2 separate regions of the Homo sapiens genome follow, and region 1 is linked to region 2. The links come from fine-mapping of genetic effects on gene expression. A gene starts in region 2. The other region holds a variant in brackets. All regions are shown on one strand. Distances are between the middles of the regions. Region 1 overlaps TDRD6 (tudor domain containing 6). Region 2 holds the start of CYP39A1 (cytochrome P450 family 39 subfamily A member 1).

What was found. PIP is the estimated chance that this variant, and not a neighbour inherited with it, causes the effect.
Region 1: its variant is the best candidate, but not a certain one, in a credible set for the expression of CYP39A1 in cerebellar hemisphere (GTEx, PIP 0.51).

Annotation. Positions count from the first base shown.
Region 1 is chr6:46,700,500-46,704,902 of GRCh38, forward strand. It overlaps TDRD6 (tudor domain containing 6), which reads left to right. Exons shown (of 4, transcript NM_001010870.3): 4 at 1,359-3,820. The coding sequence ends at 1,388. PLA2G7 (phospholipase A2 group VII) reads right to left here. Exons shown (of 12, transcript NM_005084.4): 12 at 3,702-4,197. The coding sequence ends at 4,061. Among named protein-coding and RNA genes, the nearest start is that of TDRD6-AS1, 15 kb to the left of the region's middle. The variant C/A (reference allele first, on the strand shown) is at 1,700.
Region 2 is chr6:46,651,208-46,655,610 of GRCh38, forward strand. CYP39A1 (cytochrome P450 family 39 subfamily A member 1) reads right to left here and starts at 1,611. Exons shown (of 12, transcript NM_016593.5): 1 at 1,199-1,611. The coding sequence starts at 1,375. SLC25A27 (solute carrier family 25 member 27) reads left to right here and starts at 1,768. Exons shown (of 9, transcript NM_004277.5): 1 at 1,768-2,091. The coding sequence starts at 1,986. RefSeq lists enhancers at 1,516-1,565, 1,796-1,925 and silencers at 1,586-1,675, 2,106-2,205.

The DNA.
Region 1 (4,403 bases), 49 kb after region 2:
AAATGGTTTCTTATCTGAGTTATTTTATTTTACCATAAGAGTATTTTGTTAGTTACTGTATCACATAATGCATGCACATGATGCTATTGGTTGTTAAAAGGAATATAGGAGAAATATTTCCCTTTTCATTGTCCTTAATAAAGCATCTGTGGCTCTACATGGATACTGTGTTTGAATAACAGCCCCTTGAACAATGATGTCCCTCCCTCCTTCACCAATTACCAGAGTTGTTGGGGATTTGAGAGCTAAACATTGGAAAAGGGTACTTTACTCCCTGTGTAGAGTGCTCCAGGGATATGTTCTAGAGAAATGAGTATTTGAAGAATAGAAAAAGTACTTGACATGATTCCTCATTATAAAATCAGATTGTCATAATTTTGATAGAAATACATTTTGTTGTTTACATCTTTTCTGGCTTATCTGTGGTTCCATTTCTGATTTGAATTATTTTGTACTCGTGATAAAGAATCAATAGCAATTCAAAGGTTCCTTTTGTTAGGCTGTATCCCAAAGAGTAGGGAAAGATCTTTACTTCATGTCAGTGGGTGATACCACTATTAAAGGTAACTTGTGTTTTTAAAACAAAATACTTTTATCACCCAGAATTACAATTTCTTAAAAATATTGTTATGCTGAATCCCTCAAACAAAAATGGTTTATCAATTTCTTTGGACATAGGTAGCAGGGAAGAAAAACCACTTTAGGTAAAAAAATTTAAATATACTTATGGAGATAAATAACCCAAGATGAGGATTTCTTGAAATATAGGAAATTTATTAATTGAATTAATCTTGAAAGTTAAATTATGAATGTGATAAATTCACATTTTAAAGAATTTTCTCTGTTAATTAGCTCATATGTTCAAATGATATTTGTTAAATAATCTCTTGGAATTTCTGAATCTTTAGTTTATATAAGATTCAAATTATTGGCTGGTTCTTGGTATTGCACATTCTTGTTCATAAATAATGCAGTGGTTCTTAGAATTGAGGCACATTGAGAATAAAATCAGCTAATGGTAGCTTTAATATCATGTGAAAAATATATACTAATCAAAAAGGAAAAAGAACTAATTGATTATCAGCCTTGTTCACACCATTCTCTAGCAAAATATAAAATATGCCAATTTCATAATTTTTAGAGAAACTTGATTTGATGGTACAGTGTGAGAACCAAAATATTAATAAGAAAATAAAACATTGTTTCTATAGAAATAATGCCCTATAGTAATTAGAATACTCATCTGTCCCCTCTCCCTTTTAGAGAACATTACATTTGTCATGGTAACACCCATGGAAATAAATTTTTTTGTTTGTATGTTTCTTTCTCAGTTTGAAGTTTTTCTCTTTTTGTTTCAGAAAAGGGGTTTGGAGGTGATGGAGATTTAACCGTGGATCTATAGCTGTGGCCAATCAGTCAGAAGCTGCCCTTGAACAAGTGGCATCTTACGCAGACCAACAGAGTATTTGAGAAAATTGAAAACATGTAACCACAAGAAGTTGTCATTTTCAAAAACTTCTATATAGGTGGAAAACAAATTAGGTCTCAGGTTGATGGTGGGGTGTGTTTATAGTGATCCTGTTATATATACAGATCTGGGATCTTTCGTCTTTATTGTCTTACGTTTCTAATTAGTTGGGAGGATTTATTTTGCTAAACAGTTTACTAACACATTACATTTCAAAAACTATTTTGGTAC[C/A]TTTCAAATACAGTGTTTAAATTAAAATAGAAAAATAAGGGCTCATGACAAGTACATTATTTGATTCTACTTAGGATAGCTTTTTAGCAGGATCTCCTTCAGAATTTTTGTCTTGACTTTGAATCTTTGCCTGTTTGTCTAAACATTTGACTAACATTCTGTTTGAATTTGGAAGTATTCTAATACAAGATTTGAATAAAGTTTATCCTTAAATAAAGTTTATCCTTAATATGATGGTCTCATTTTATTAAAAAGGAAATAGAACTCTTAAATATACTTGGTTCCATCTCTCCTCTGTAATGGAGGATTGGGGAAAGCATAGTAATATTAAATGTTAGCTCTTATGTATTAGTCACTTAGCTTATACTTTAAATGCATTTTTTCACTTTATTCATCAACTTTGAAGTGCATATCAATATTATCCATATTTTATAGGTGAGAAAATTGAAGCTTCATAAAGAGGTTAAATAACTTGCCTAAGGTCAGATAGCTGATGAGTCTCAGAGGCTTGATCAAACCCAGACCTACCTAACTTTGAAGCCCATGACTTTTTAAACATGATTTTGCAAAGCATAGATCTTAGCTTTTAGAAACAGATCTGAGCTATATGCTGCTTAACAGATATGTGACATGGGCAAATTATGTAATATTTTGAACTTTGATCTTCATCTGTAAAGTGGTGATAATAAAACCTTTCTTGCAGTGTTTTTTTAAGATGAGAAATAATTGATATAAAGTCCCTGAAAAGGAGTAGGCATTTGATAAATGTGTCTTTCTTTACCCTGAAAAATACTCAGTGTGCACTATGTTAGGTTATTTCTTTTTAACCTTAACTTATTAGATATTTTCAATAGTTATTTTCTCCTTTCAGCATCAGCATGCGCCACCAACAAAAGACTGTAAAAAACAAACAAACAAAAAAGTGTTGAATGGGACATCCATACAGTTGGAATGCTTATTTCTAAAATGAATAGGGAAAAGGTTTGCTAAATGAGACTGGGGTAAAGGTGTATCTCTGTGAAGCATTATCAGACTCTGAAGCCTAATGGAAATAGAATTATGAACCTTAAAAACCCATTATAATTTCCGTAAGTAGAAGGGAGAGAGGTTTGCATTAAAAGTAATTGAGGTAGATGAGTATATTACTTATTCCTGGAATAATGAATAGACAAGTTTGGCTTACTCATATAGATAATATAATGTGAATTGCCAGAAGCAAAGCTCAGAGAAGATGCATTAGGATCAGATTATAGGAAGCCTTCAATTTCAAGCTGAGTTTAACTCCCTATTTTAAAAAATTTAATCTGAATGGCTACAGAAGTAAAATTTCTCAGAATGAGTGACTTTGCACCTGACACCACTAAGATAGGACTAGGGTACCAAATGAGTGGTATAAATTTTTATGTCCCCTGGGAAATAAAATCATTTTCCATGATTCCCATATTTATAAGTATAAATTCTTAAGCTATATTTTTACCTCCATTTAATCGTGTTATTCTGTTTTACTACTACATATAGAATTGAAAACATTAAATAAAATTAACTGGAATATGAAGAAGCTAAATGTAATTCTGAATGTTTTATTATCCTTCACAGCCTTTGTGTGAGTAACTAATGTATTCTAACTGGAATCCCTGCTATATGCTGTAATACCTGTGGAACCTTTCTTTAGCAAGTAGAATGCCTTAAAGAATTAAAGAAAGTGTCAAAAAATTACCAATTTAATCCACTGCCTTTGCCTCATCTCTAATATTCTTAACCCTTCTCTACTCCTTTTAGTCATCATTTGAAATTGTGTAGTACCACCAATCCTGTGCTGAAACAATGGCTTTTGCTTGTTCTAATTTTTCTTACCGTGACCAAAAGTCAAAGAGAAGAGCTGCCAAATTCTACCTAGAATATCATGTTGCTATAATTAAACTCCACTGCCCATAGTAGATAATAAAAGGCAAGAAATTGTTTTTTACTCTATGTTTAGGGAGTCTTGTATCATTGCAACAGGTTTTCACTGGGATTTTGCCTGTTTTAATCTACTTGTCTGTCAAAGTAATGTAAAAACAGTTTTTAACTTCGACACTGAAAAGGAATCATCTTTAAAATTAAAATTTAGGCTGATATGAATATTGTATACTGTATTCTTTCTTTACATCTAAAGGGAAAAAATTCTTAGTCCAAGCTTCAATCACGATTACAGTATAGCCTACATTTTAAAATATGAGTCCTTTGGGAAAATACATTAAAATTCTCTCTCTCTCTCTCTCTCTCTCTCTCTCTCTCTCTCACACACACACACACACACACACACACACACATAATTTTAGACAGTTTTGAAACAAGACTTTTAAAAAACCTATTTTAATCCTAATTGTATTTCTCTATTCCTGAAGAGTTCTGTAACATGATGTGTTGATTGGTTGTGTTAATGTTGGTCCCTGGAATAAGATTCTCATCATCTCCTTCAATCAAGCAGTCCCACTGATCAAAATCTTTATGAAGTCCTATAAAATATAAAGTGTTAATCAACATATTAAACTTTTGAGAGCATTAAACAGTTTGGTGCCCCTAGGTGGCAATAAAGATTTACAAATTACACAAGTTCCGTTAGGATGGTAGAGACGATGTGCTCTGTATCAGCTGCCTCATGGCTGCTTTAGCAGCTGAATGCAAACGGGATAGGAGTGAGGCAACCTGCTGTCAGTATCCT
Region 2 (4,403 bases):
TACAACCACACAATCAATACATGCACACAAACACGCAAGAATGTTCACTGAAGCACTGGCTGAAAGAAAAAAGTTTGGCAGCAACCTATAAACCCAACTATTGAGATTTAAGTAAACTATTGTATCCTCCTATGACAAAATATAGCCATAAAAGGAAGATTCAAAGTATTTCATGGTACAGGAAAGTCATTCACATTATATGTTAAAATCAAAAGCACATAAAAGAGTATTATACTATTATTCCATTGTTGTTCATTAAATAGTTGTAAATACATAGGAAAATGACCAAAATAATATAAATACACTAAATTTTTACAGTACAGCTGGTGTGATATTCTGGGTTATTTTTATTTTCATCTTAGTTCTCTTTAATTTTCTATATGTTTTTTACTAAATTGGAATCTCAGAGATTTTGAAGGCAAATGATCAGTGGTAAAATAATGCTACTACGTATAAATTCATTCTACAAATTGGGCTAACCAGATGGAAAATGGGTCACCACAGAAAGTATTATAATTCATAAGAATAATTATAATATCATACAAATTTATTAGACAATCAAATACCATAAAATATTTGTGACTGGAAATTGAATAAAACTTAAAAGACATTAATAAAGGTCTGTTCCTTAAAGTGCTCAGACATTTAAAAGATACTTTCAAGACAAAAACATCTACTACAAGGAGGATTACTAGTCTCTTCAGGCCGTAGTGAAAATGGAGTACATCATCATCAAATAACAACGTCAGCTAAAAATACAGAGCCTGTTTATTGTGTACGGACCAACTGTGCAAGCAATTTGTACAATACTTTGGTGTTAACTCCAATTTGGATACGAATTACTCATTTTCACAAACTTAAATTGGATTACACTTTATCTTTCCCAATTACTGAAAACATTTACTTAACACATACACATTTGGAACTTAACTTCGATGAAGTAAAAATACGAAAAGTTAATCTCTACTTCCAAAAATGTCGATGCACGCTGCAATTGTATTTCATTTCTTTCGCAAAATTTTGCACAGGATATTGTTGTTAATTGTTAGTAGAGGAATTCAGAAATGACTAGATCCTTTAGTTGAGGCAAGCAGGTATGTTCCCCGTGTTCTAGCCCTGCACTTAAGAGTCAATGAAAGAAAGTTTAAAAAAGAAAGCATTGTCTCCTCTGGAGACCCCGTCTGCCACGACCACATACCTTGATTCTTGCTTTCTCTATAAATTCTAGAGGGGCTTTCCCAAACTCAAATCCAACTCCAATCCAAGGAATCCAGCCCTTGATGCACGGGGGTCTACGCAAATTCTTCCGCTGAAGGAGTAAGAACAGAGCAAGGCAACCCAGGATTATAATCACTGTTGGGGAAATTAGTTCCATGTTTTTGTCCAGCACCTTCCAGAAGCAGAAAAGTGTGAAACAGTCCTGCCGTCCCTTGCTTCTTTTCTGTGGGCTACGGAACCTGTCGGGACTCCCAACCTTTCTGCTGCAACTTTTGCAGCTCTCCTTCGTAACTGTAGCTTCCTTCCTCTGTCCCAGTTTTCAGGTGATTTTTCCATTGTCGCTCCCTCCCACCTCCACTTCTCTTTGAATCTCAGCCAGCGCGGAAAAAATGCAAGGAGGGGCAGGGCCGGGCTAGGACTGACGGGCGAGAACCAGCCGCGTTGCCATGGAGGCCGGGGGCGGAGCCGCAGAGGGACCCGCGGCCGGCCAATCAGAGACGTAGCGGAGCCCGGCGGACTACATTGCCCAGTAACCTCCTGGGCTCCGCTGTGTTTTTCTATTCTGGGGTGTAAGGGGCAGCTGGACCACTCCAGCTGGGACTGCTAGGAAGGTTGCGGGTCCACCCGGCCGAGCCGAACGAGGGAAATGGTCCTCACCCGGCCACTCGCCGGTTGAAAAGGGGCCGCCCTGGCAGGGAAGCGGCCGCCGCGGCGCGGTGCAGCGCAGCGGCGAGAAGGAGTGCGTTATCGTCTTGCGCTACTGCTGAATGTCCGTCCCGGAGGAGGAGGAGAGGCTTTTGCCGCTGACCCAGAGATGGCCCCGAGCGAGCAAATTCCTACTGTCCGGCTGCGCGGCTACCGTGGCCGAGCTAGGTACCCGGCTGCCCACGCCTGGGCCTCCCGGGCCAGTGGCACGCGCCGCGCTGGGGGAGGGTGCGCGGGCGGCTTCGCGCCCGGCAGTGCGCATCGGAGAGGTCGCCCCTTCCATGCCCGCCTGGCAGAGGTGGCGGTGGAGGCCAGGCCCGCGGTGGGAGGAGGAGGGATTGAGGTCTCCACGGCCTTTTCCTTCTAATCTCTTCTAATGCTTCCCTTAGGCATGTGCTGTGGTGCTTGAATGTTGTACTTTAAGAAGCTTCGCGAGCTGTCATTCCTCTGTAGGAATCATTTTCCTTTTCATGAGGATGACCTTTTTAAAAACGTAATCTGTTTTCCATCCTTACTGAGATCATCTCTGTGGTTTATAGTCTTACACAGCCACACTGTCATTATCTTGTGGGTCCAAGTTGTGGACCTACCTTGTGGGACTTCCGTTATTAACCTGCCACTCACAGAGCATCGACTACTTGACCTCTTTGAGTGTAATTCATCTATACTGTTTACCTTGCAGGATTCTGAGAAGTCAATAATATATGATTGCTAAACCCAAGGCAGGACACCCATTAGTTGCGACATTTTTATAATTCCTACAATACCAGGGACTGTGGATATATATTTGAAAAGACCCAGTTCTGACCTTCTTACAGGCTGCTGGGGAGACAGAGAAAGACAATTATAATGTGCTACTTGTTATAATGAAGATATTATTAGGTGTCATAAAAGCATAGAAGAGCAGTTACATCTGCCTACATGAGTAAGAAAAAACTTTAAGAGGCCATCTAGAGTGGAATGATGATGCCCTTGAATGAGCAAGTAGCGTTTATTCCAAGGATTTTGTGAGTAGTATACTCATGTGTTTCCTGTGAAGCCTTAACTGTGTATTTTAAGATTACCCTTACATTTTCTTGCCTGTTACAAAAAAATAAAAAGAACAGTTCTGATGCGTTATCATTTGTAAATGTTAGTTGGTCCTATTTTAAGAGTTTATTTTTTAATTCTAGCATAGCCAGCCATGATCAGTTGTTTCGTGCTCTTCCATTTTTGCCTTTTAGCCCCTCTATTTTTTAATGTCTCTCCTTTCGAAAATGATGGAGAATTTTTACTTTTCATTGTTTTTACTGAAATAAAATTCATCAGCTTAAAAAGATCTAAAAGCAGATTGCTGAATGATATTTCCAGGTTTTATTTTTAATTGATGTGTCCCCCTCTGACTCAATGGCTTTTATACAGGACTATTCCTCGTTAAAAATTCATGGAGAGAATTGTGTGTGGAGAATGGATGGGAATCAAAATGTGGGATGGTTTTAAGTACAAACCACTTCAGGAACCTGAAGCATCATTTAACAAACCAGCGAGAAAACAAAACTTATTTTGAAAGACATAATCTGTGTAATATGGAGAAATCTATTAAGATTTTTCAGGTTTCATATGTCAATAAAATATTGCTTGAAGTCTATGCAAGCTACTTCTGTTCTAGGGAAACTGTCAGCAAGATACTAACTTTTCCAAAAACCAGTGGTAAGATTTAATATTCACTTCCCTTCCCCACATTGTTTTCTCTTGGAAAAGGTATACTAAGGTTTTGTGTCAGGTGGTGGTCATTGAAAAGTCTTATATAATGTAAGTAATGTTCATGAACTTGTCTGAATGTTATTATTTTAATTATTCAGGACGTTTTCTGTATAAGGTTATGAGCTCTATCTTCCTTATGTAGGCCGTTTAGCTTAACTGTATTAAGGTAAAAGGTCTGTATCTAATTTAAAACTTAAAACCAAAAAATTTTTCCAAAATACAGTTAGTACTTGTAAGGAGGCCATGAGTAGGCGATGCATATAATTTAGTGCTGGAAAAATAATTCCATATATGCTTTAATTGAAAGGATATTGAGCTTATGACCCTTGCATATAAAAGACAACATTATAAACTCCATTACATCTTCTGTATCTCAAACATTATGTCAGTCATTCATCTGCATGTGAACATCACCCACGAAATTATAGAGTTCAGCTTCATCTAGCATTTGTTATAGTACATAAGAATATATAGTGCAGTATTCTAATGTTACATTAGATCTCAAATAATCATGGCTGCAGTCAAGAGGATAGCACACAATATGGTACTTTAAATTATTTCCCATTGAAAAGCAAAAATTAATGACTAACAGATATTAAAGTTAAATTTCTGAATAGAAAGAACCCAAGGCTTGTCATTTTAATTTTTATTGTTAATGTTTGTTTTTTTTTTTTTTTTTTTTTTTTTTTTTTTTTTTTTTGCTAGTGATCCAGGATGCTCTTGCGTAGTGATTCTTA